3 separate regions of the Homo sapiens genome follow, and regions 2 and 3 are each linked to region 1. The links come from fine-mapping of genetic effects on gene expression. A gene starts in region 1. Each other region holds a variant in brackets. All regions are shown on one strand. Distances are between the middles of the regions.

Region 1 (7,498 bases):
GAGCACTCTGTGCAGCGTGCCTGGTTTGTGTCCTAACTTGAGAGTGAGCTGGGAGAACAGAGCATGGGCTGCCGAGGGTGGCAGAACCATGACCTCTGCCCCAGGGTTGGCCCTCCTTAGACAGGGGCCACGCTCGGGCCTGAACCCCACAGGATGGAGAACAAAGGACAAGTGGCCTGTTCCCCAAACACATCCCACCTACTCTACTGTCATGGGGGGCGGGAGGCTGACCTTGGGGTGAGGATGAGTCTTGCCCAGCATTCTGGGTGTGAAGCGGCTGGTGGCGGAGCTCAGGAGTCTGGGCCTTTGCCCAGCTGGTCCTGCCCGTGGGCATCCCTTTCCCCACCGTGTACGTCCAAACTGAACCTGCCCATGGGGCCTGGCTCAAGTGCCACCTCATCCACAAGCAGCCCCAGTTACCAGCCCTCCTGACCCCACTGGTCAGGGAGCGGTTTCTCTCCTGGTCGCCACTCAGGGATCACCTAACGAGTCTCTACTGTGGACCAACAGTTCTGGGCGTGGGGGATTCCCGCTGCCATAAGGCTTACAGCCTGGGGGGAGGCGGTCACAGACAGTAGATTACGTAATGATGAGTAATTCTATGTGGGCACGATGATTAGCAGTGGTAGCATTAGCACGGATTAGTAATTCAACAGGGCAGGGCTCTCTGGAGCCCCACCAACAGTCCTGCGGGTAGGCAGCGGCCCAGCAGAAGGGCAGGAAGTACAGACGAGGAGACGGGCTAGCAGCTGCAGATCACCCGAGCCCAGGGCAGAGCACGGTGCCCAATGCTCCCCATTCCTCACCCGTTCCCTTCCCACCCAGCCCTATGCTGCACCCTCAGTCTCTCTGTTACACAGATGGAGAATGTGGGGCTCGGAGAGGGGACTCAAACCCCGGGGTCTGCTCCTGTGCCCTGTCTCCACGACTCATAAGAGTGTTTACCCCTGCAGGCAGCACTTGTGTGCATGCCTGTCTCCACACAGCACACACATGTACACACGTGTGCACATATGTATCATCAGGGATGTTTAACCTCCACAAGTTTCCCAGTCTCCAGGGCCTTTCCTCGGCAGTGCAGACCTAATCCTGAGTTTGTGAACTTTTGTTTTCAGGACATCCACTTAGAGGTTATGAAATCTCACTCTGAAACGTGAAGTCCAGGAATAAACACTTCTCGAGGCTCCACGCCTGCATATGAAGTGAGATCAAAGCATGTCTTTGTGACCCCTTCATGCTTGCAGGGGGAAGCGGCAGGAGAGAACTAGGACATCTTTCCTCGCTGTGCTGGCCAGGACCGAGGCAGCCAGAGTGTATGGCTGGAGAAGGACAGAGAAGCAGCCCGTTCGCCTGCAGCTGGGGTGCCGGGCTCCACGGCTGACAGTGAGTGAGAAGGGCCAGCACCTCACACCCTAGTAACGGCCAATGTGACCTGAGCCCTGCTGACCTGATGCCTAGCCCTGCAGCGGTCACATCCCCGAACCCAGCCCTGCTGAGACCATTTCGTTTTTGCTCATCTCTATGGGCAGCACAGGCCTGACACGTAGTAGGCACTTTATAAACATGTGTTAATTGGTTGAATGAACATAAGCAATGATCATCTCCATTGCTGAGATAAATAAACCACAGCTCAGAGAAACTAAGTGATTGCCCAGAGCTGGAGGGTGGAAGGTTTGCAATCTGAACCCAGGTTTGCTCGACTCCAGACAGGGTGCTGGGGGCGACCACATAGGCTTTGCAGCGAGTCTCCTTGGCCTTGGATCAGAGCTTTATCACTAACTAGCTGGGTGATCTAGGGCAAGTTACTTCACGGGCTTCAGCTTCCTCATCTGTGAAACGGGAGCCGTGCCCCACACCTTGCAGGTATACCAAACATAGAAAGGACCAGAAGCTAGCAGGGCACCCAGAACATTAGCAGCTGATCCATAAACCGTTCTTATCCGATGTTGCCTACTCTACTGTTCCCAAAGCTGATGGTTTAGGTACCAGAGAGGGTCCTGTGTGCCCCTTGGCAAATGAAATTGTGTTTGAACTCCATGTCTACGTCTGATTTCCCCAGTTCATCTTTCCGTGCTTTGCTTGTTCCTTTAGTTGGCACGGATTTCCCTCTGCCTTACCTGTTGGTTTACTGCTTCCCTGCCTAGTACAAGCTCTTCAAGGGTGGGAAATTTTGTGCCTCTGCATCGCCCCACCATGCTTTGCACACAGTAGGTGCTGAATAAATGTCTGCCGGCCATAGAGTAGGAACTCCATTAGCACTCGTTGGCCTGGTTTGTTTTATTGCAAAGAGCAAACTTCCAGATGGGAACAGCAGAGATCCAGGCAGGAGATCTCCTTCAACTGAGACATGGCCTCAACTTTTACGGCCACCACCGGGAGTGACCTTGGGCCATCAGCCCTGGGTGGAAGTCCCTTATTTTAGCCTAGAAACCCAACTCCAGGGCTCCAGTGGGACAGGTCCCCCTAAGTCCAGGGGAGCTGAGGTGGGCCGGCTCACACCCCCTGGGCCCTCACTGTCTCCCTACCAGGCGGGCATACCACTTGCTCCATGGGGCTGCTCTCAGGGTCAGGGCCACGAGGAGAAGCACACTGCCACGAAGGGTGCTGGCCTGGGTGCTGGAATTGGGAAGGCACGCAGGTGACCTCCAACGTGGAAACCTCTCCTATCTCCCCAGATCCCTCCCTCAGTGGATAACCATTCCAGTGTATCCCTAATAAGGCTCTTGTCCCTCACTGACACCTTTCCCTGCTGAATCCACCATGCCCCAGCCAGCTGGGCTCTGAGTCCAAGTTACAAACTCAGCTGTTTCAATGGTTCCCCCTTTTGAGCCCCTGGCCTGGGCCAGTTCTGCACCCATCAAAGTTCTCTGCATGTGCTACTGTCTCGAATGTTGGAAGTAGGCACCACTGTGATCCCATTTTACAGATGAGGAAGCTGAGGCCTGGGGAAAGGGGGACTTGAGCGAGAACACACAGCTGAAAGGGGCTTAGCTGGAAACCCCAACCCTGCTGAAGGCCCTAGATGCCCCACTGTCCTCCAGGGGGCCACACTGGGTCACAGGGCGAGGGGCTCAGGCCAGACTCAGTTTCCTCCCCTATTAAAGGGAGAGCTTGGCCGAGACAATCATGGGCCTTCTTCAGCTCAACAACCCTTTGTTTCTCTCTGTCCTCCTGAGTTATTTGGTTGCACCATGGAGATAAAACAACCCCTGGAAATCCCAGAGGCATTTTTTTCCCACTGGAGAAACACAAAAATATCACATGAAGAATGAATCACTTAAAGTGTCAGGGCAGGAAGAGGAAAGACAGGCATGGCGCTCGCCTCGGGGTGGGGGTGGCTCTGGGTTTCTCTTCAGCTCCCTCAGCCTCCCTGGTCCCCAGAACCCCTTCCTCACTGGAGTGAAGAGAAGCCAAAGCCCTAAGCCTCAGTTTCCCAATCTGTAAATGGGGACAACAAACCTGCCTTGAAGGCGTATTCGGAGGGGCCAATGCATTCATTTGTTCGTTCATTCATTCATTCATTCATCTATTCACTTATTTCGTACCGGTGTGATGCTGGACTGGGACTGCAGACTCTGAAGTGGGTCGAACAGACCCACCTCACCCCCGTGAAGCCAACCAAATGCCCTCCAGGCCATGACTAGGGCATCCTGAGAGCACTCCCTAGGCCATGCCGGACCCTCCCCCGAGCCTTTGGCCTTCTCTCCAACCCCTCTCTATGCAAGGCTCTTGACACAAGGACACTGAGGCACAGAGACGGTCAGCAACTTGCTCAAGGTCACACAGCAGGTAGGTAGTAGCACCAGCATCTGTGCACCCCCACAGGGCTCCCACCCCTCTAGATCAGAGCCTGCTCCCCATCTTGCCCCACTGGCATAGCCGTCACCCCGGCCCCTCCCATTCTTCTGTGACTAGGAGTCACTTAGCAGCCTTGCCTGGCTTCTCCCTTAGACCCAGTGCTTAGCCAGGGCAGGGACCCCAGGGTCAGCGTGAAGGAACAGAGGTGCCCCTGCACAGTGAGGACCTGGAAACCTCCACAGGCTGCTCCTTACCTGCCGAGCCCTGTGACTGAGGGATCAGAAGCCCCCTCCGCTGGCTGCGGTCTCCCTGCAGCTGCTGGCCTCTTCCCCGGCTCCTGGTTGCCACCAACCTTAAACCCCAATAAAAGGAGAGCAACTTGGTCGAGCCTTGTATAGGCAAAAGAGTGTTTTCCAGCGCAGGCTGGCCTCTGTGTGCTGACAAGAATTCAGTGTGCTCCTCAGGGCGGGGAGTGGGGCTAGGGCGCTGAGTCAGCCCTGCAGGAGTCCAGCTCCCGCCTGGGCCTAGGGCCGCCACCTCCCAGGCCCAGGATGGCAGCGGCTGCTCCCGCAGTCCCCACGCACTCCAGCCTCTGGTCTTACAGCCTTGTGCATCCTCAGAGCACCAGCAAGAGCCCCATTTTACAGGTGAGCAAACTAGAGACACTCCCTGTGAGATCCCACAGCTAGAAGCAGCAGGGGCTTAGACCCAGGGCACCGGGCTCCAGGTCCGCACCTCAGCAGATGCTTGGCACAATACATGTGGGTTCCCTCCCGTGGCCCTCAGTCTCTGTTGGGCAATGGAGGTCAGTGGCACCACTGCACAAGCCCCTCTGGCCAGCATGGCCCGGGGAGGGGTGTGGGTAAAACAAACGGTCCCCACACCAGCCCGGGGAGGAAGGGTAGCTGGGACCCGAGAGCCCACAGAGGGTGTGTGGCACCTGCCTGACTCCAAGCTGGGCTGATCTTCCTGCTGTTGCCCCCCTACCCCTGGCCTGTCCCCACCCAGCAGCAGAGGGTCCTCCCTGCCAGTAGGAATGGGGTGGGGATGGGGCAGGAACAGGGCGGGGGATGCCCACACCTGCCACTGTTCGAAACACATCAGTGGCTTCCATGACTGTCTGGACACAGCCCAGGGGCCTGGCTGGCCTCTGCAGCCACACTTCCTGGGTGCCAGGCACCCCCCCAGCCCATGGCCGTCTCCCACCCCTGGGCCTTCGTGCATCGTGGTACCTTGGCGGCGCCCTTGGCTGGCTTCTGGGTGGCATTTAAACGCAGCCATAAAGGAGGCCAGCCCTCCTCTGCCTCCCACCCATCCCTGGAAGCCTGCCCATCCTGAGCCAGGCCAGAAATAAACCTCCTTTTTCCATTCCTTTCGGTGGACAGAGAGCGAGTTCAGACTGGTCTGGGTGCCCCTCATCTAACCACGGTCCCAACAATGGCAGCCCAGAGCGATGGGTGCCACGATGGGAAACCAGGGGGCTATGGGCGCCCAGAGTGCCTGATGCAGCCTGACGGGGTAGGGGCCGGGAGTGGGGGTGGTATTTATTTAATCTTCATGATTAGGAGGGGCTGTGATTATCCCCAATTTACAGATGCGGAAACTGAGGTACAGAGTTTCAGTAACTCGTCCTGGGTCGCCTGGCTGGGGACTCAGACCAGGGGGTCTGGTGTGGACACCTGAAGGATGAGTCGGGCGGTGGGGCGGGGGTGGGGGTGGGGGAGTGTTCCTGGCAGAGGGAACAAGGCACACAAAGTTCCTCCTGCCTCTTGTCTGGGGCTCAGCATAGCAGCAGAGAAACAAAAGGGCTCTGAGCTTGGGGTTTGAACACGGGTTCAAGTCCCTTGCCGCTTCTCAGCTGTGTGATCCTGGGCATGTTTCTCTGTCTCTCTGAGCCTGGACTGCCCTGTGGATTTTGTTATAGTTCAAAGCAGACCTCCTGTGCACCAGATCTGGAACACCTATGACATAGAAAAGTATGGGTCCGCCAATGACATTTACTCCTTGCGATCCACCCTACGAGGCAGGAATTTTAAAAGTTCACCTTTGACAGAGGTTGGAAGCACAACAAAGACCAACCTGCCTGGCAGACCGGGGTGAGGGCTGCCTGGAGGGAAGGTGACCCCACCTCAGGGAGGCCACTGTGACCACATCCTCTTGCACAGTGGGTCTTTGCCTCAGCAACTGTGGGGGAGGAAAAGCACCAACATCCCCTCTCGGCCGAGGGGACCAGGCTCTAGAAAGCTCACAGCGGCGCTATGGAAAAACCTGGAGACAGCCCTGGAGACGGCCCAGTGGATGAATAGGAAAATGCATGGTGTTATGGCCAAACACCGGAACACTCTTCAGCTACCCAAATGCACTGCAGCCGCACAGAACATTACGGGGCATCTCAGCGCTATGAGGCTAGAGAGAAAGTAAAGTCTCCAAAGATGAAGTTCAGCACAGTACGCTTTCTAGAAGGCTAAAAAGAACTGTAAATAAAATGTTCTTTTTGAGAGTGCATCTGGCTATAGCAAGGCATACAGCGGGACGTGGGGTGAAGTGGGCCCTGCTTGGGAGCGCACAGGCTGACGTTCCTGCTCTCAGGCTGAGGGATGGGTCAAGGATGTTTCTTATATTATTAACAAACAAACAAGTAAATAAAGAAGTCTTGGCAAGGACTGCCGAGGGCGAATACCAGGAAGCAGGCAGAGACATGGGCCTGACTCCATGGCCTGGAGTCTGGAAAATAGAATAGAAAATCAAGGTTCAAAATATATGTAAAGAAAAATAATGATTACAGTACCCCCCAGCCCCCATCCATTGCACACAGGCCCACCCCTCTGGGCAGCTGAGACCCACACAGGGGCCTGGGTGGGGACTGCAGAAGCTGCTTTGGCCTGGCTGGGGGTCCCTGAGAAAGGAGCGTTTTTTTCCGGTTCACAGTCCCAGGCTGCTGGGTGTGGTGCCGGAACTGTCCAATTCCAGTAGGGAATCGGTGTGAATTCCCAGCCTCCTCCTACTGAGCCCACATACACCTCGTCCCTTTGAGACCCTCCCAGTTATAAACTCTCTGTGCCTCAGTTTCCCCATCTATAAACTGAGGACACCAGGCCATATAACATCCTCCTATATTTCCATGTTTGGAACTGAGCTGGTGGCCCCATGTCACCTGGGCCACAGAATCCCAATGCTGCTTCTTACGCTGTTGTTACCTGCCTGGCGGGTCACCTGCCTCGAGGAGGCTTGGTTTCTTCCTTTGTGGATGGTGCCATGCCTCCATCCTGGCCCCTCCAGGTCAAGGGGAGGATGACTGAGATGAAGAACACGCAGGGCCCTGCCTGAGCCACTGCTGGGGAGTTGCTGCCTCCTTCATAGGCTCACAGGCAGCAGTTCCCCGGCCTCAGGTGATTCCGCAATGGCAGGATGGGTCTCCATCCTGGCCCTCAAAGGATTCACAGTCCGGGGCAGGGAGGGGAGAGGCATTGCACAGTGTAAACCGCCCATATCGATGTGGAGCAGGGCAATGATAACCCCCCAGGGGCCAAGTGCTCTCTGCAGTGCCCGTGACAGACCTGGTCTCCCACACATCATGCTCCTGCAACAGGACATGTCATTCTGTGACTTGCCCAAGGTTACAAATAGCAGGCCCCCACGTGGAATCCAGATTTGGAGCAGACCAAGCCAGGGAACCCAGTTGGGACGTGGTGCACCCTGG
Region 2 (7,498 bases), 48 kb after region 1:
TCATTTGCCAGTGGAACCTTCATTCCTCAAATAAGGAGTCGCTTCTCTGAGTCTCCAGTTGATCACTTGAAAAATTAGGATAATAATACCCACCTCCTACGGCTGTCACGCTCCTTCAATAAAATATGACAGAAAATGCACCTGGTTTGTAGCGATGCTCAGTAATTGCTGGCGGCAGTAATGTGACAGTTATTTTTACTGTTGTTTTTATGAATCGTGTTATTTTAATTAGCTGTCAGTTTCCAGGTCTGAGCTGGCCATCCTGGAGATAAAAGAGCCTCGTGGTTAGGGGCTCTGCTCACCACTATGTGCAGGGGAGGAGGCCACCTTGAGGATAAGGGAAAGATCTGCATGCATTGTGCAGACATTCACTCATTCACCACTTGTTGCTGCCTCTGTGCCCACACAATACCATGTCTGCCCCAAGGACGCAGCTACATTAAAAGCAATTGCAATGCTGCACGATCAGGGCTCTGAACTCGGGGACTTCGGGGGTCCAGAGGGCACCTGGCCCAGCCTGGAATAAGGTGGCATGTGCAGGAAGGCTTCTTGGAGCACGTGGCTTTTGAAATAAACATAAAAGGAAGAGAATCCAAGCTTCTGGGCTCCCAGCTTATTTGCTGTGTGACCTCGGGCCAGCCCCTTGCCTTCTCTGAGCCTCCTGAAATGAAAAACCAGGAGCAAGAGTTCACAGGCCACCAAGGCCTGCCCCCAGGAGAGACTCAGAGTTGTCACATCAGTTGAGCCTCAGGGTCCCCAGACTGTGCTGTCAAAGCCAGCTGAAGTAAAGATACTGGTTCCCCTGCAAGGGAGTCAGGCGGGTCATGCTTACATTCCAGCCAGCTCCCAAAGCTACATGCGTGAGGATAAGAAAAGAAACTCCAACAAACATCTGAAACATTTCACGGCTCCCTGCCCCGCTGTTCCAGTTGGAGAGAAAACAGAACGCTGAGCCAGTCTCGCTGACGACCCACACGCTGCCGCGGCCGAGCCTGGACCATCCAATGGCATCCTGGTTCTTTTCATTCAATTTAGTCTCTGCGGTTGGCCACCTGCCTGTCCTTTTGAGCACTGAACTCGAGGGATAAATGGGGAAGCTGGAGCTGGGCAGATGTCACCGTTTCTGGGAGTTGCCGCTCGCTCACCACCTGGGATTTTGTTTTCCCCGTTGGAAGACAGAATATCCCAGCAACGTGCAATCCTTCTTTGCTGGCAGGTTTAAGGCCTCTTGTAAACAAGAGCCAAAGAAGGAGAGAGAAACACACTTTTGCCGTGTGCCTGTTCTGAGCCAGGCTCTGTGCGGCGCCTGATATCCTTTCAATCCTCTGTACCTATTTTACGAATAAGAAACGAAGAGGCAGGGAGCTGAGAGAGCCCCCTTGGGAGGTGAAATTATCACTTGGAATGTCAAGCTTGCTCTAAACCAGGACATGGACTGAGATTTCAGGGCTGAGCAGTTTCGGGGGGATGGTTAAGCTGGTGGAGGGCTAAGGGGTATGTGTTAAAGAGAAAAATTGCACCTGACCCGTGTTTAAAAATGGCAAAGAAGACTTTACCAAAGATGATTGTAACAGCGAACAGAGTTTGAACTCAACCTTGAAGACAGGAAGGACAGCTGGAAATTTATGGCCAAGGAGCAGAGTGAGGGGCAGTGGATGGAAAATTACTCAGAAGGACTAGATTTGACATCAAGGGTAGAGGACTTCCTGCTACCCAGGCCCGGTGGGATTCTTGCTAAAGGGACAAGGACTTAACGATCAAGAGTGGGAGAGAGGAACTTGATCTGAGATCAAGGGTGGGGGATTCTCTCCCTGAACTGACTTAGCGGGATTCTTTGCCAGCCAAGGTCAAGGCCTGTGCCAGAAGAGGGCTCAGAGACACCTGGCTAAAGTTTGGTCGAGGACGGCGCTCTGTCACGTGGAGGGGGAGACACTTAGGAGCAGGAGGTTGCGCACCACAGTGTGAATGTCCAAGTCTCCCCAGGGACGTGGCAGGGCTTCGAGGTATCCTAGGAGGTGGTGAGGGGCCGGGACAAATGCCCAGAGCCAGGGGGAGGTGGCGGGGGCACGCTGAGGATCCAGCAGGTACTGGACCCAGAGGTCTGGGGACCCCAGTGTGTGTGACAGACCCGAGGTTCTCAGTCGAAGTTTGGGGTCAGCAGGGGAGGAAAGAGATGCTGAATTAGGTTGGCAGGGTGAGGGCGGCAAAGGGCTCAGTGCTGGGTGTTGCTGAGGCAGTGGCTCAGGCCCCCTTGGTGTCCAGAAGGCATCCTCTGGGTGTCCATCAGGGACAGTACCAGTCCTCCGCTGTAACTGTGTGCACCTTAATGGGAGCCATCTCCCCAGTTTCTTGCTAACAGAACACAGATTTGGTTAGGCGGCAATGTGCCTAGGCCCAGAGGGACCCCAGGATGAGCACCCTGGATGAGGGGTAGACCACACGTGTGGGGACATGCGTGTTACCTGGGCCCCCACCTGCGGTCCAGCAGACCTTGGTGAGGTTGGTGCTTGGGACTCCTCAGCTGCAGAGCTGAGTCCCAGTTCAGCCGCTTCCTGGTGGGGTGAACTCAGCCCTTGCTCAACTCAGCTTCCTAATCCTGAAAACAGGTAGTGAGGACACTTACTCCCCAGAGAGAGTCATGAGGATTTCATGGGCCCAAGCTCGGCCCATGGGGTTAGCGATGATGGCATGCTGCGGGGCTAGCTGGAGAGGAGCCATCCTCCCCATGGGGCTGCATGGGCGTGTGTGCAAAGGGCCAGGGGCAGGCTGGCTGAGGCAGCCTTCAAAGCTATCCGCTGGCCGGGTACAGTGGCTCACACCTGTAATCACAGAACTTTTGGGGGACAAGGAGGGCGGATCACAAGGTCAAGAGATCGAGACTATCCTGGCCAACATGGTGAAACCCCATCTCTATTAAAAATACAAAAAGTAGCTGGGCATGGTGGTGTAAGCCCGTAGTCCCAGCTACTTGGGAAGCTGAGGCAGGAGAATCTCTTGAATCCAGGAGGTTGCAGTGAGCCGAGATCGTGCCACTGCACCCCAGCCTGGCGACAGAAGAAGACTCCGTCGCAAAAAAAAAGCTACCCTGCTTTGCAAAAGCTCTCTCACCTTGGCTCCTGCCAATCCCCTCACTGCCTGCAGGACACAGGCTTCCCCCAAGCCTATTCTCATTCCACAGATGAAGAAACCAAGAAAGCGAGGCTCAGAGAGGCAAAGCAGCCCACTTAAGTCTGGCAGCCGGTGAGGAGTACAATGGAGACGCAAGTGTGGGCCTTGCCCTGCCCCACCCGGGGCTGCAGCAGGGTGGGCTGGGAAGGGATTTCTGAGACTGAGAACGGCGTAGGCAAAGGCTCAGAGGCAGGAAGGGGCCTGGAAACCCAGGGCACGCGAATGTTGGGTAGCATGGTGCCGAGCTGGGAAAGGCGCCTCTGGGGAGAGCAGGTCATGCCCAGACTGTGGCCCAGGGTTTCTGTAAATGGAGCTTCGCACAGTAGGCCCACGGCAGCCAGTGTAATTTGGAGAGAAAATTCCAACCGGATGAAAACAAATGTTCTTTGCTACTGCAGCTCCCTGCCCTGCAGGCCATCTCAGGCTGTTACAGCTGGCGGCCGGCTGGAGACTGCGAGCGGCAAGGAATTCGGAGCCAGGGCCAGGGCAGTGCTTCATTCCAGTGGAAACGTGTGCTAGCTGCGGATTTCTGGGTGGTGTGGTATGGGCTGGAGCCGGCTGGCATGGATGGAGGCACGCAAGGACGTGT[G/A]GGGGCTAGATCTGTCCCCCCAGGAATCCCACCAGCTTCCGTCATGACTCAGTTCTGGGACAGCCGAGGGCTTAGGAATTGGCTTGGGCTTTGCAGAGCAGACGTGGAAAGGTCAGCTCCACACTGGCCCAGTGTGGAGGCTGGCAGGGCCCAAACCAGAAAGGAAAAGTGGCCTGGCTCTGGCCTCGGTGATCTTGGTGTTCGGGTGTGTGCCGGCGAGCCTGCCTTCTCATCGGGGGGTGTGTGTGCCCCCAGGGCAAGGACTGTGCCCAAATGTGTCATTGTCGAATTCATCCAACAACTTCCGAACAGCAGTTGTGTGCCAAGCCCAAGCGGGCACTGCGGGTGCCAAGGTAAATAGGTCTCAAGTTCTGTCTCCTCCCAGCTCCTTCCAGCACTGGGCTCCCGACTGGCACCGTCAGGCTCTGGAATGAACCAGGCCTGGGTTCAATTCTGCCTCAGCCCTGACTGTGAGAGCCTGGACAAGTCACTGTCTCCCCTAGACCTGGCTTCCCCTGAGAAGGGCAGGGGTAAGGGTGCTGTCGCAGCAGTTACTGGGGTAGTGATCCTGGAGTCTCGAATAACTCAGGCTCTTTAAATCCTAGAACTCTGATGAATCACCCATGCTATGGGCTCGGTTATGGCCCCCAAAATTCATGTGTTGAAATCCTAACTCCCATACCTCCACATGTGGCTGTACCTGGAGACAGGGCCTTTAAAGAGGTGACTAAGTTAGAATGCAGTCAATGGGGTGGGCCCTAATCCAGTAGGACTGGTTTCCTTATAAGAAGAGGAGACTGGGACACAGACACCCACAGAGGGACAATCAGGTGGCCAAAGACACTGGGAGAAGGTGGCATCTACGCACCAAGGAAGAGAGGCCTCAGGAGGAACCACCCAGCTGGGACCTTGGCCTCCTGAGTGGTGAGAAGATGGCTGTCTGTTGTTGAAGCTGCCCCGTCCATCGGTGCTGCCTTGGTATATGGCAACTCGAGCAAAACACAAGCCGCACTGCAGACCTTCTCAGGCTGGAGTCCCCCTGCAGGGTACCCGCCGTGGGCCCCTGGCTGGCAGTTTTACTGGGGTTCAGTTCTAGAGGAGGCAGGGCTCCCAGCCCCAAGCCTGTCCAAGACGATTCTCTACCCAGAGGATCCCAAATGTTTCTCTCAAAGGAATGCCTTCCACCGTCCCTGACAGAGCACAGCCAGGGGTTAGTTATAGCCAGGGGTTAGTTACAGCCAGGAGTTAGTTACAGCCAGGGGTTAGTTATAGCCAGGGGTTAGTTATAGCCAGGGGTTAGTTACAGCCAGGGGTTAGTTATAGCCAGGGGTTAGTTACAGCCAGGGGTTAGTTATAGCCAGGGGTTAGTTATAGCCAGGGGTTAGTTACAGCCAGGGGTTAGTTATAGCCAGGGGTTAGTTACAGCCAGGGGTTAGTTATAGCCAGGGGTTAGTTACAGCCAGGGGTTAGTTACAGCCAGGGGTTAGTTATAGCCAGGGCCCGGCTTCTGCCTCCAGGGACTGTTCTTAGGGACGCTCTAGTTCCAAAGATACTTTCGGCCGTAGCATCCTGGTTGAAAAACCACATAGAGGAACAAGCAGTTGAGTGAGCCCTGGTGGGTCCATTCAATGGAGTCCAAAGTAGCTTACACCAGTTGGTCTGAAAGTTACACCCAGGGAAATGCAGAAGGTGACCGATGCCTATTGAATGACCCTCCAAGCAGCGCCTGGCTCCAAGAAATGCTTTCTGTAAGTTATCTTGTTTATTTTTCTTCCTAAGGAAGCTAGATATTTTTGTCCCTATTTTACACACAAGACTAAAGAACATCTCAAAGGCAGGGATTTGGTCTCCCTCACTTCCCTTCCCAGCACCCAGGACCCAGCACAAGGCTCCATCCAGTTGACCATAGCAGCAAACATGGGCACCCACTGGCTGTGTGCTGGCCACACCCTGAGCCCTTGACATGGGCTGGCTTATACCATGCTCAATGCCCATGGCAAATACTGTGTCAGACCCATTTCACAGATAAAGAATCTGAAGCCCAGAGGGGCTGTGACTTGTCCAAGGTAAACGCCTAGAACGTGGGGGTGCCAGGAGTCACCCCTGGCACTGCTGGGCTCCTAGCCCAAGTGTGCAGACGCTGGCTATCCTGCCTCTCAGCCCACGGTAGTTGAAGGACTGAATGAGCGAGTGGCCCTGCTACGTCCTGGCTGCGGGGTCTGCAGTAAGTCCCCTAGACCTGCTAAGCCCCAGTGTCCTCATCTGTAAAATGGGCTTCCCCCGCTCCCCACCAGGAGCTGCCTTGTGTTGCTGAGAGAGATGTGGCCTGATTCCAGAGACTCGGCCTCGTTGGGTGGACTGCCGGCTTTGTGGGGGCAGGGAGGGCGGGGAGCATGGGGCCATCTGCAGCCCCTGGTGCCTGACTATGAGTGTCTGATGAAGGACCTCACCCTAGGACTTGGGGCCCTCAAGGCATGGTGACTCACCCCGGCTCCTTCCTTCCTCCATGGCCCTGTGTCACTGGCTTAGGAGCCCCCAGCTCAGCAGCCTGCGTGAGCGAGCCCCAAGTGCTCTCAGACCAGCCCAGGCTCACACCCAGGACATGAGGCCACGACGACCACCTGGCACATCCCTCTGCTCGCCACAGCCCCGGCCCTGATGGCTCCCAGCCCTCTGGAAGGGCCAGCCCGGCTGGATCAGGAACGCCAGTCCGGAGAGTAATGAGGGTTCCCTGTGGAATGAGAGAGACTCCACATGGTTGGCGGCGGCGCCTGGACGGTAGCCAGCACTTTTCCAGGGCATTCCGGGAATCCCGCTCTGGCCCCTTGTCTGACGCACTTTGAGTCAGCACTTGAGCCAGACGGCCGCTCTGGGCTGGCCAAGAGACAGGCCAAGCGTCCCCACAGGAGCGCTAGTTGTGTGAGGGAGCCCAGAGTCCCCTGACTTAAACGGGCCTGGCTCACTGCCCCCATTTCACAGATGAGAACACCAAGGTCCAGAGGCAGGGCAACCTGTCCACCCTGGATACTCCCTGTCAATCATCAGAGTGGCTCCCCTCAGCCCCTGCTCACCCCATCCTCCATCCTGCCGCATTTATAATTGCAGTGGTGGGATCATCCTGACCCCACCTCCCCCTGGGGGGGCTCGCCCTGACCTGAGGAAGGAGGGGCTGGGCCTCAGGCACAGGGAAGAGGCCCTGGGACTGCCACATCCCAGGTCACACACCCCCATCCCCGGGGGACAGAGGCTTCATCTGGTTATTTATGGAACTGCCACTCTGTGCCAGAGCCTGCCCAGGACACGGTTTCTGCCTTTGAAGACATGCATGGAAGGAGTGACCTCCAGGCCAGAGCGATAAATGCCGAAATGAGGGGAGCACAGTGGGAGGACGGAGCACAGGGATGGAGGCGCTGGGGACAGCCTCCTGAGTCAGCCAGAGAAGCCAGCCCAGGGCCCGTGGCTGCTGGGGTTCAAGCAGAAGTCCCTCTAGGCAGCGGCCCCTAAGGTTGTCAGTGGGGCCTTGGCTGGGGTGCGAATGGGGGTAGGACTGAGCCATCCCCCACAAGCCAAGCCAGGAGGTCACCCTGGAGGAAGGGGCCTGACTGTAATTGGTACAAGGGTGCAACATGAGCTGGTAGCTGCTTAAGGAGAAGGATGAGGGGTGCCAGCCAGCCAGCCAAGTGCTTAACAACTGTCCCCTGGGGACATCTTGGGGTTTATGCTAAGGTCTGGGAACAAACT
Region 3 (7,498 bases), 28 kb before region 1:
GCCTGAGGTGGGCCCTGGCTGTACAGAGGTGAGACCTGGGCTGTCAGGGTGAGGGGACCAGGGCCCGCCACCTGAGGGGAGAGAAGGCTCAGCCCAGACCCTGTCCCAGACCCCTAGTGCTGATGCTCCTGCTGCATCCCTTACACGGGATTTGCTGAGCAGCTACTATGTGCTGGGGCCCTGAGTCGGGCTGAGGTTCTGGTCGGGGGAGCTGCACACCACTGCACAACTGACAAGGGTAGGGAGTCCAGCAGGAGGACGGAGGTCCAGATAGTGAGGTCAGGTCGGGGATTGGTGGGAGGGCCTGGCTGGGCTGAATACTGGTGGAAGTGTGTGTGTGTGAGTGTGTATGTGTGTGTGTTTGTGTCTGTGTGTGTAGGGGGTAGTGCTGCCTCCTGCCGCGCTGTGAACTGAGTGTGCAACTGTGCAAGGAGGGCCAAGGTGCTTAGAGAGGCTCTCTACGCCTGGGAGGAAAACCCAGGACCTCCACAGTGCGAAGGAGACACCGTTAGGTGACGAAGGCACTTTGTCGCAGGTGCGGTGTCCCTGGGGTGCCTGCTGGGTCACACTGGGCTCTGGGCCCTCAGGGGTTGTCCTGACTACTTTCAGGAGGAAATGACGGGTGGAGTCTTGGGGTCACCAGAGAAGACACAGTCCAGAGAATCTGAGCAAGAAACTTCACAGTCTGAGTTCAGTAGCTACTAAGCGGAGGGAAAGCCCCGCTTCTCCGTGAAATTAAACGAAGGCAGCTGAGCATTGTGACCATTGCACCACTCCTGACGCCCCTGCTGGCTCCTAACTCAGTTATAAATCCCACGGGCGGGGGACGGCACAACGCCCCACCTGCCTGGCCACGCGATTCGGCAGCACTTGGATTTTGCCCAGCCAGCTGGCAGGAAAATCACATTTCTTATGATTGATGGAGTGCGTGTCTGTGGGGACCAAGAGGCGGGGGCTGTGTGGGGCTGAGCCACTGCCGCCAGGGCCTTCAATACTGCTGTTCAGCGGTGGCCTGGGGGCTGCCTCGGGGCCCTCACCCACCAAACCCAAGGGGTTTCTGAGAGGGGAGGCTGTGCCGGCCTCCGCTGGGGAGCCGAAGGCCTTGAGGCTGGGCCCAGCAGTCGCCCAGCTTACTCCTCTGCCCCAGCTCTGGGATCTGCTCCCCGCCCACCGTGGGCCCTCCCGCTGCAGCAGCCAGGGTGGGAGCCAGGGGCAGGGAACTCCTGGGCACTGAGGCAGTCCTGGCCCCCAGCACAGCTGCCCCTTGCCTCCACCTCCCCTGGCATCACCTGACTGCCCTGTCCTGGCAGTGCCTTGGCCTCCTGTCTCTGTCCCCCCTGCGGTGGTCCTTGACCCACTGCTTGGGTCCCACTAAGCCTCCCCAGAAGTGGCTGGCCTCATTAGGAGACTCCAGGAGCTCAGGGGATGTGGGTGTGTCTGCAGCTGTCTTCCTCCTGCTGCCCCTGCACAGGGAGCCCTGAGGAGCTGGAGAAGCTGGATTCATTCGCAGGAGAAAGAGCTGGGGTGGGCAGGGGAGAAAGGCAGAGAAGCCACAGAGGCTGGGCTCATAGGAGACTTCTGGAGGTGAAAGCAGAAGTGAAGAGAGATTTTGAAGAGCAGCGGCACTCAGCAGGAGGCTCCTGAGAGGGCTGTGAGGGGAACAGAAGCCTTTCCAGGGGCTGATGAGTGTTCAAGAACCTCCCTGGTCCACACTCCTTGCCTGGACATTCTCCAGTGTGCCCGAGGAGGGCCGCAGAGGGCGTTTGTAATGGCTGTTTGGGTGCCAAGTGGTGTTTCATTGACTGGGACACCACATGGAGGCTGGGCCACCCGGGGACCAGGGACCTAGTCGGGTTACAGTCAGAGCTATAATGCTGGAGATGTCCTGGGTCACACAGCTGGGAGGACCTTGGAGTGGCAGGAAAGGAGGCTCCTCCCTGATCTCCAAATGAAATCCCCTCTCACGTTGGTTCCTCAACTGGCAAAACTGAAGCCCAAAAAGGAAGCTCCTCACCCAGAGTCACGCTGCGTGTCAAAGAGCACAGCGGGAGTGGGACGGTGCCCGTGAATCCAGCCAGGGACTGGCTATTCCCTTATCCTGCACCACACCTTTGTGGGTTCTGACAACCTTTTTTCACGCTCACAGGGTGATGGGAACACCTTCCTGAGCCTGCACTCAGGACGGTCAGGAAAGACGAAGAGCCTCTGAGCTCCAAAAGGAAAAGTGTCCCACCTGGACCTGGAGCTCAGCTGCCCACTCAGGCTCCGTGCACAATCCCTGCAGGCTTGGCAAGCTCTCTGCATCCTGATGGCATAGCACAGTGCCTGGCACACAGCAGGTGCACAATGTGTGCTTGTTGGGGAAAAGCAATATGGAACAGGGGTAGGGTGGGAACTGCTGCTGAGACAGGCAAAAACGTTCTGGGCAGGATGAGATCGGGGAGCTGTTAGCAGCAAGCACAGTGACGTAGGAAATGGAAGACCTTGAGGCCGGGGCAGGAAAACAGCACCCAGGTGCTGAGTGCAGGGTGCTCACGACATCCTCCATCCCCTTGGCAAGTGTTCGGCGAGGTGTGAGCTATTTATTCCAAATGTATGTGCATGCAAAAGGTGCGGGAGTGGGGGAGGACCACCGTTTTAAACGGAAGATTCTCAGCTATCAAAAAGCTTGGCTCTTATAGACGTTTTCCAGTGCCTCCTGAGCTGTAGTGCCTATGAGCATCACCCTCAGAGATGCCTGGTCAGTAGGCTCTGGGTCTTTAGTTTGACAAACCCTCTAGGTGTGTCTGTTGCAAAGGATCCACATTTCAGAACACCCCACTCTTGGGTCCTGCCAACAGACATTTTATTGTCTGTAGCTCTCTGGAGTCCCCACTGCTCAAGGGTGGAGGCTGGCTTCTTCTCTACCCATCACCTCCACATCCCCCAGAGCCTGGCACAAACCCCTGCCCAAGGACCCACTCTGCCAGCATTTGTCAAACCGAGCCACACAGGGCTGTGTCTTTGTCTCCTGTGTGATGGATGGTGTCATTATTCAATCGATAAGCACAAGCTGATTTATGCATCTTATTAATTATTTAATAATAATTGAAAAGGTCACTACCTGCTAGCTATGTGAACGATCACTAACTCACGTCATTGCTGCCTCCAAAGAGGAGGCAGCAAGGATTAACTGAGGACCTACTATGTGCCAGGTAGGTGCACAGTTAATCCTTGGGAGGGGGCAGTCTTACCCACTCCTCCTTCACGAGGATCGGAAGGTTAAGAGGGGTGAAATCTCATGCCCGAAGTCAAGGAGCAGGTAAATGGCAGAGCCGGGACTCAGACCCAGGTTAGGTTACCTGCAAAGCTCCTGCACATGAACCCAGGGGTCACTGTGC[G/A]GCAAACTCCTGCACCCCTCCAGCAAGGGGGCTCTGGGATGGGTCTTGCAGCCTGGGCTTGGTATCATGATGTCCCTGGATGACGTGCCCTGAGCCCTGTGTGCCCATGGCTGCAGCTCAGCCCCCACAGAGCATCCGAACCTCTCACTCTAGCCCTTGACCTGGGAATCGACCCTCAGTCTGGCTCCTGTCCTTGGTGCTAGCCAGCCTCCCAGGGAGTTCCTGCTCCAAACGCACAGACCCTGCCTCTCCCCTTCCAACTCTAGATGCTGCACTACCCAGGGCCGCCTGGGATTAGGTCAGGCCCATCCCCACCATACTGGAACTGGGCGGAAATGGGAATTGCAGTAGACAAGCTCAGATCTGAACATAACCCTGGGGCAGCCACCCCACAAGGCCAACCCTTGAGATGCCACCTCTCTGCCTTCCTGCCTTCCTTCCTTCCTTCCTTCCTTCCTTCCTTCCTTCCTTCCTTCACAGCCTGCCTGAGTCAGAACTAGTACCCCTCATGCCATACAAGGCATGTACACATAAGGAACTAAGTAACATTTGTATTTTCTAACCTCATGCTGAAAAATCTGGCTGGACAGACTGATTTGCTTCCTTTGGCCAGATTTACAACTCAAAAAGCCATCCGGTTTTCCCCTTTGCCTTGGCAGCTAGGTAACCCAAAACTCCACTAAATGTTTAGTGGTTACCTCTCTCACACTGGGCTCTAAGCGCAATGAGCTTGCAAGCTTTGCTTCTAAGCTCTGTTTCCACCTCTCATTTTGACTTTCCTGTCTAGGCATGTGTTGTAGGCTACCCATAACAGTTTGAAATTTTTCTTGGCAAACAACAAGATAAGCAAACAATCAGGCAACCAATGAGCCAAACACTATGGCGAGAGTGATGGCGTATTCTCCAAGCTCTCCAAAGACAATGACCCAAATCATTCTGGGTCTCAATTGTAGCCACTCACCAGGCAGACGAACTCTGGAAGGTCATCAGCGGTGGGCTGTGAGCATCTCCCCGCAATGTGTGCACGGCCTGTGGGGCTTGTGGCAGCGGGCCTGGGGGAGGCTGCGGCTGTGGGGCCCGCTGACCCGGCCGAGGGGCCCGAGCGGGGTTCCCCCACCGCCGGGGGTCCTGTTTCATCCATCGTCCTTGGATGCCCCACCGTGCCAGGTAGACCTTGCAGATGTCGTAGTTCATTGCCGAGTAATACAAAAGGTCCAGAACCAGCAGCATCAACACGAAAAATCCATAGATCCACACTCCCAACAAGGCGGTGTAATTGCTGCGAACAAACAGAGAGGGAGTGAGCAAGCAGAGGGGAGCAGTCCAGCTCAGGCCGGCTTCATCAGTGGGGCTGATTAGAGAATGTGTCCTGGGGCTATGTTGGGGTCCCCGGGAGGAGGGTACTGAGCCCCTCTGGAGGGCGGGGCCTTGGCTCCCTCTCCTCTGCCTGCCTGTTCGCCTCCTTCCCTGGAATCCACTGCCCGGGCCTGGTCCCCACCTGGGCATCCTCCAGGACCCTGAGTCCTTGGGCTGGGATCCCTGAGGGTCCCACAGAGTCAGACACTTTGGGGGGAATTCTGAGCTGGCATCTGGGGCTCCCAGGACATGGCAGCCTCTTCCTTTACCTGGTGCTGTTTTGGTCTGCCCTCTCCCTCCTTCCTGCAGGTGCCCCTGCCCCACCTTTGCCTACATTGTTCCTGGCACCCGGGATGCTCTCACTGCCTCACCCCTGCTGTGAGGACGGAGGTCCTCCCCATCCTGCTGGACCAAGAGCAGAGGCATCAGGTTCTGCCCTCTAGACCCTCTCTCAGCCTCCCCCAGGGGTCCCCTTCACTCAACACGACCAGGCTGTGCATGGCTGGGGCTGTCCGGGCCCCATGACCTCACTTCTGTTATTCATTTGCCCAACATTTCCCCACCGAGGGCTGCTCTGCCTTCCTCAGGCAGAGGTGGCCAAAGTTGCGGGAGGGTTTGGAAGCCCGCTGTGAAGCCTGGCTCTCCCGGTGTCAGCCGACTCCACTGCAGACAGGGTCTGCGCTCCAGCACCCGGCCTTTGCACAGGCCGTGCCTTCTTTCCCTGCCCCCTTCCTCCCCTGCCTACCTCCCACCGGCCCTTTGTCGAAGATCACTTCCTCCAGGAAGTCTTCCGGACACCCTGACCCTCCTACGCAGCTGGGTCAAGCCTGTCTTCTGGCCCACAGCCCTGAGTTTCCCTCAAACCCAGCCCCTGTCACCCAGAGCCACATCTGTCTCCCACACCCTTCCCCAGGGCCAGGGTCCAAGTCTCCCCGACCTGTGCCCAGAGTGGATGGTGTCCAGGGCTTGCCACAGCAGCTGGAGCTGCCGAGCCCTAACAGTGCGTGCCAGGGGCTGTGGCTGCCTGAAGCCACCGATCTGTTAATCACTCCGGCGCCGCCTCCGTCTGCTCCCTGCTGCAGGCATGTGTTTGGGTGGGTGTGCGCTTCTGGTGTCGAGGAGGCGTGAATGGAGCCAGTGTCCGGCCTGTACACGCCACCGCTGCACATCCCCAGGGAGAGACTCACCTCGCTCTCGCCCAGACGGAGGTCTCGCGGGCAGCAGATCCTTTAAGACCCTGTTTGAGGCTGGGGGGAAGGGGCCAGCCCGGAACCCGGAGACCTGGTTCTAATTCTTCCTCTGCCTGGTTTGCTGTGTGGCCTGGGAAAACCCTTGCCTGTCTCTGGGCCTGGAGGAGATGAGCATGAGGCCTCTCCCAGTCTCGACTTCCAGGCTCCAGATCTTCCCAGGCTTAGGTCAGCCCTGGCGCCAGCAGTGGCCTCTGTAGGAAGATGGGGGCTGCTTCCCTTGGGCTCCTCTGGCCCTGACCAGGGCTGAGCCCAGGGCCGGGGAAGCTCGCTTTCGCTCTCTGCCTAGAATGCCTTCCCTCCTCTCACTTGGCCAAGTTCTTGGCCTGAAGATGCTGCTCGGGTGCCTGGGAGCTCCTGGCTGGGAGGTCTCTGCATGTCCTGAGCACATCCCATGAGCAGCTGTAGGCCAGTGCTTAGGCTTTGTAGCTGTAATCCCACAGCTCCCGGTCACTGTGCGTCCTTGCTGCCTCCTTGCCCCCACCTCCCAGCCCCCACCACCATGAAGCCTGCATCAGACTGATGGGCTCGCTCATGCTAAGGTGTAAATGACTGACAGCCAGGCCCCAGCGGCCTTATGTTAAAAAGAGACTGTTAAAGAGAGGCTAGCTTTTCCTGGAGGCATCTGGATATGGAATTCCTTCCAGGAATTCCAGGAAAAAGAGGCCTGCAGCCCCATCCAGTATGCTGGGGCAGGTGTCCCCGGGGTAGATGTCCATGTAGACCGAGGAGTCAGGCCTGGCTCCAGTTCCCAGGCCCTCCTGCTTTCCCCAGCACCCTCCCTGCTGCAGCCCCCACGGAATTGCTCTAAGTGCCAGGTTTTTCTTCGGTGGTTCCCATGGCAGCAGCCACGGGGGCTGAGGGAGGAGACGGGGAAAGGGGAGGCAGGGCAGCTGTGTGCAGATGCTGTCCGCAGAAGGGGTCCAGGATGCCAGCTGGGGGTGTGGCTGGGCCACAGGCTGGGCCTCGAACCACTGGGCCAAGAAATAATAGTACCAGAAGTGGCAGTGGACGCTCGTTCCCCTACCTGCTTCCCACGTTAGCCCATTTAATGCTCACGCAACCACGGGAGGAAACAGCTTTTTCATCATTGTCATCCCTGCTTTACGGATGGAAAACTGAGGCTCGGTGGAATTAAGAGACTTGCCTAAGAGCTCACAGCCATTAAGGGGCAGAAGCAGAATTTGAACTCAGCAGCTGAGCTCTAGAGTTGCGCTCCTCACCACTATAGCACACTGCCTTGGCTGCGGCCACCCGGGTTCTCAGGTAGAAAAGCTGCTCCAGGGGCCAGGCGCGGTGGCTCATGCCTGTAATCCCAGCACTTTGGGAGGCCGAGGCCGGTGGATCACAAGGTCAGGAGATCGAGACCATCCTGGCTAACACGGTGAAACCCCGTCTCTACTAAAAATTAAAAAAAAAAAAGTTGCTGGGTGTGGTGGCGGGCGCCTGTAATCCCAGCTACTCAGGAGGCTGAGGCAGGAGAATTGCGTGAATGCGGGAGGTGGAGCTTGCAGT

Direction of the effects. Alleles are on the strand shown, and positions count from the first base shown. SD is a standard deviation of normalised expression in the study named. Not every link is listed here.
With allele G in place of A in region 3, the expression in transverse colon of the gene that starts at base 4,253 in region 1 is higher (moderate effect, 0.58 SD a copy in GTEx).

Evidence for each region. PIP is the estimated chance that this variant, and not a neighbour inherited with it, causes the effect.
Region 2: its variant is fine-mapped to the expression of SHISAL1 in nasal epithelium (TOPMed, PIP above 0.99).
Region 3: its variant is fine-mapped to the expression of SHISAL1 in transverse colon (GTEx, PIP above 0.99).

Annotation. Positions count from the first base shown.
Region 1 is chr22:44,308,699-44,316,196 of GRCh38, forward strand. It overlaps SHISAL1 (shisa like 1), which reads right to left and starts at 4,253. Exons shown (of 5, transcript NM_001099294.2): 1 at 4,053-4,253. LOC101927499 (a long non-coding RNA gene) reads left to right here and starts at 4,313. Exons shown (of 2, transcript XR_244444.3): 1 at 4,313-4,445; 2 at 5,723-6,301.
Region 2 is chr22:44,357,166-44,364,663 of GRCh38, forward strand. No RefSeq gene overlaps it. Among named protein-coding and RNA genes, the nearest start is that of SHISAL1, 48 kb to the left of the region's middle. The variant G/A (reference allele first, on the strand shown) is at 3,758.
Region 3 is chr22:44,281,087-44,288,584 of GRCh38, forward strand. SHISAL1 (shisa like 1) reads right to left here. Exons shown (of 5, transcript NM_001099294.2): 4 at 4,342-4,659. Among named protein-coding and RNA genes, the nearest start is that of SHISAL1, 28 kb to the right of the region's middle. RefSeq lists enhancers at 1-129, 1,041-1,540. The variant G/A (reference allele first, on the strand shown) is at 3,381.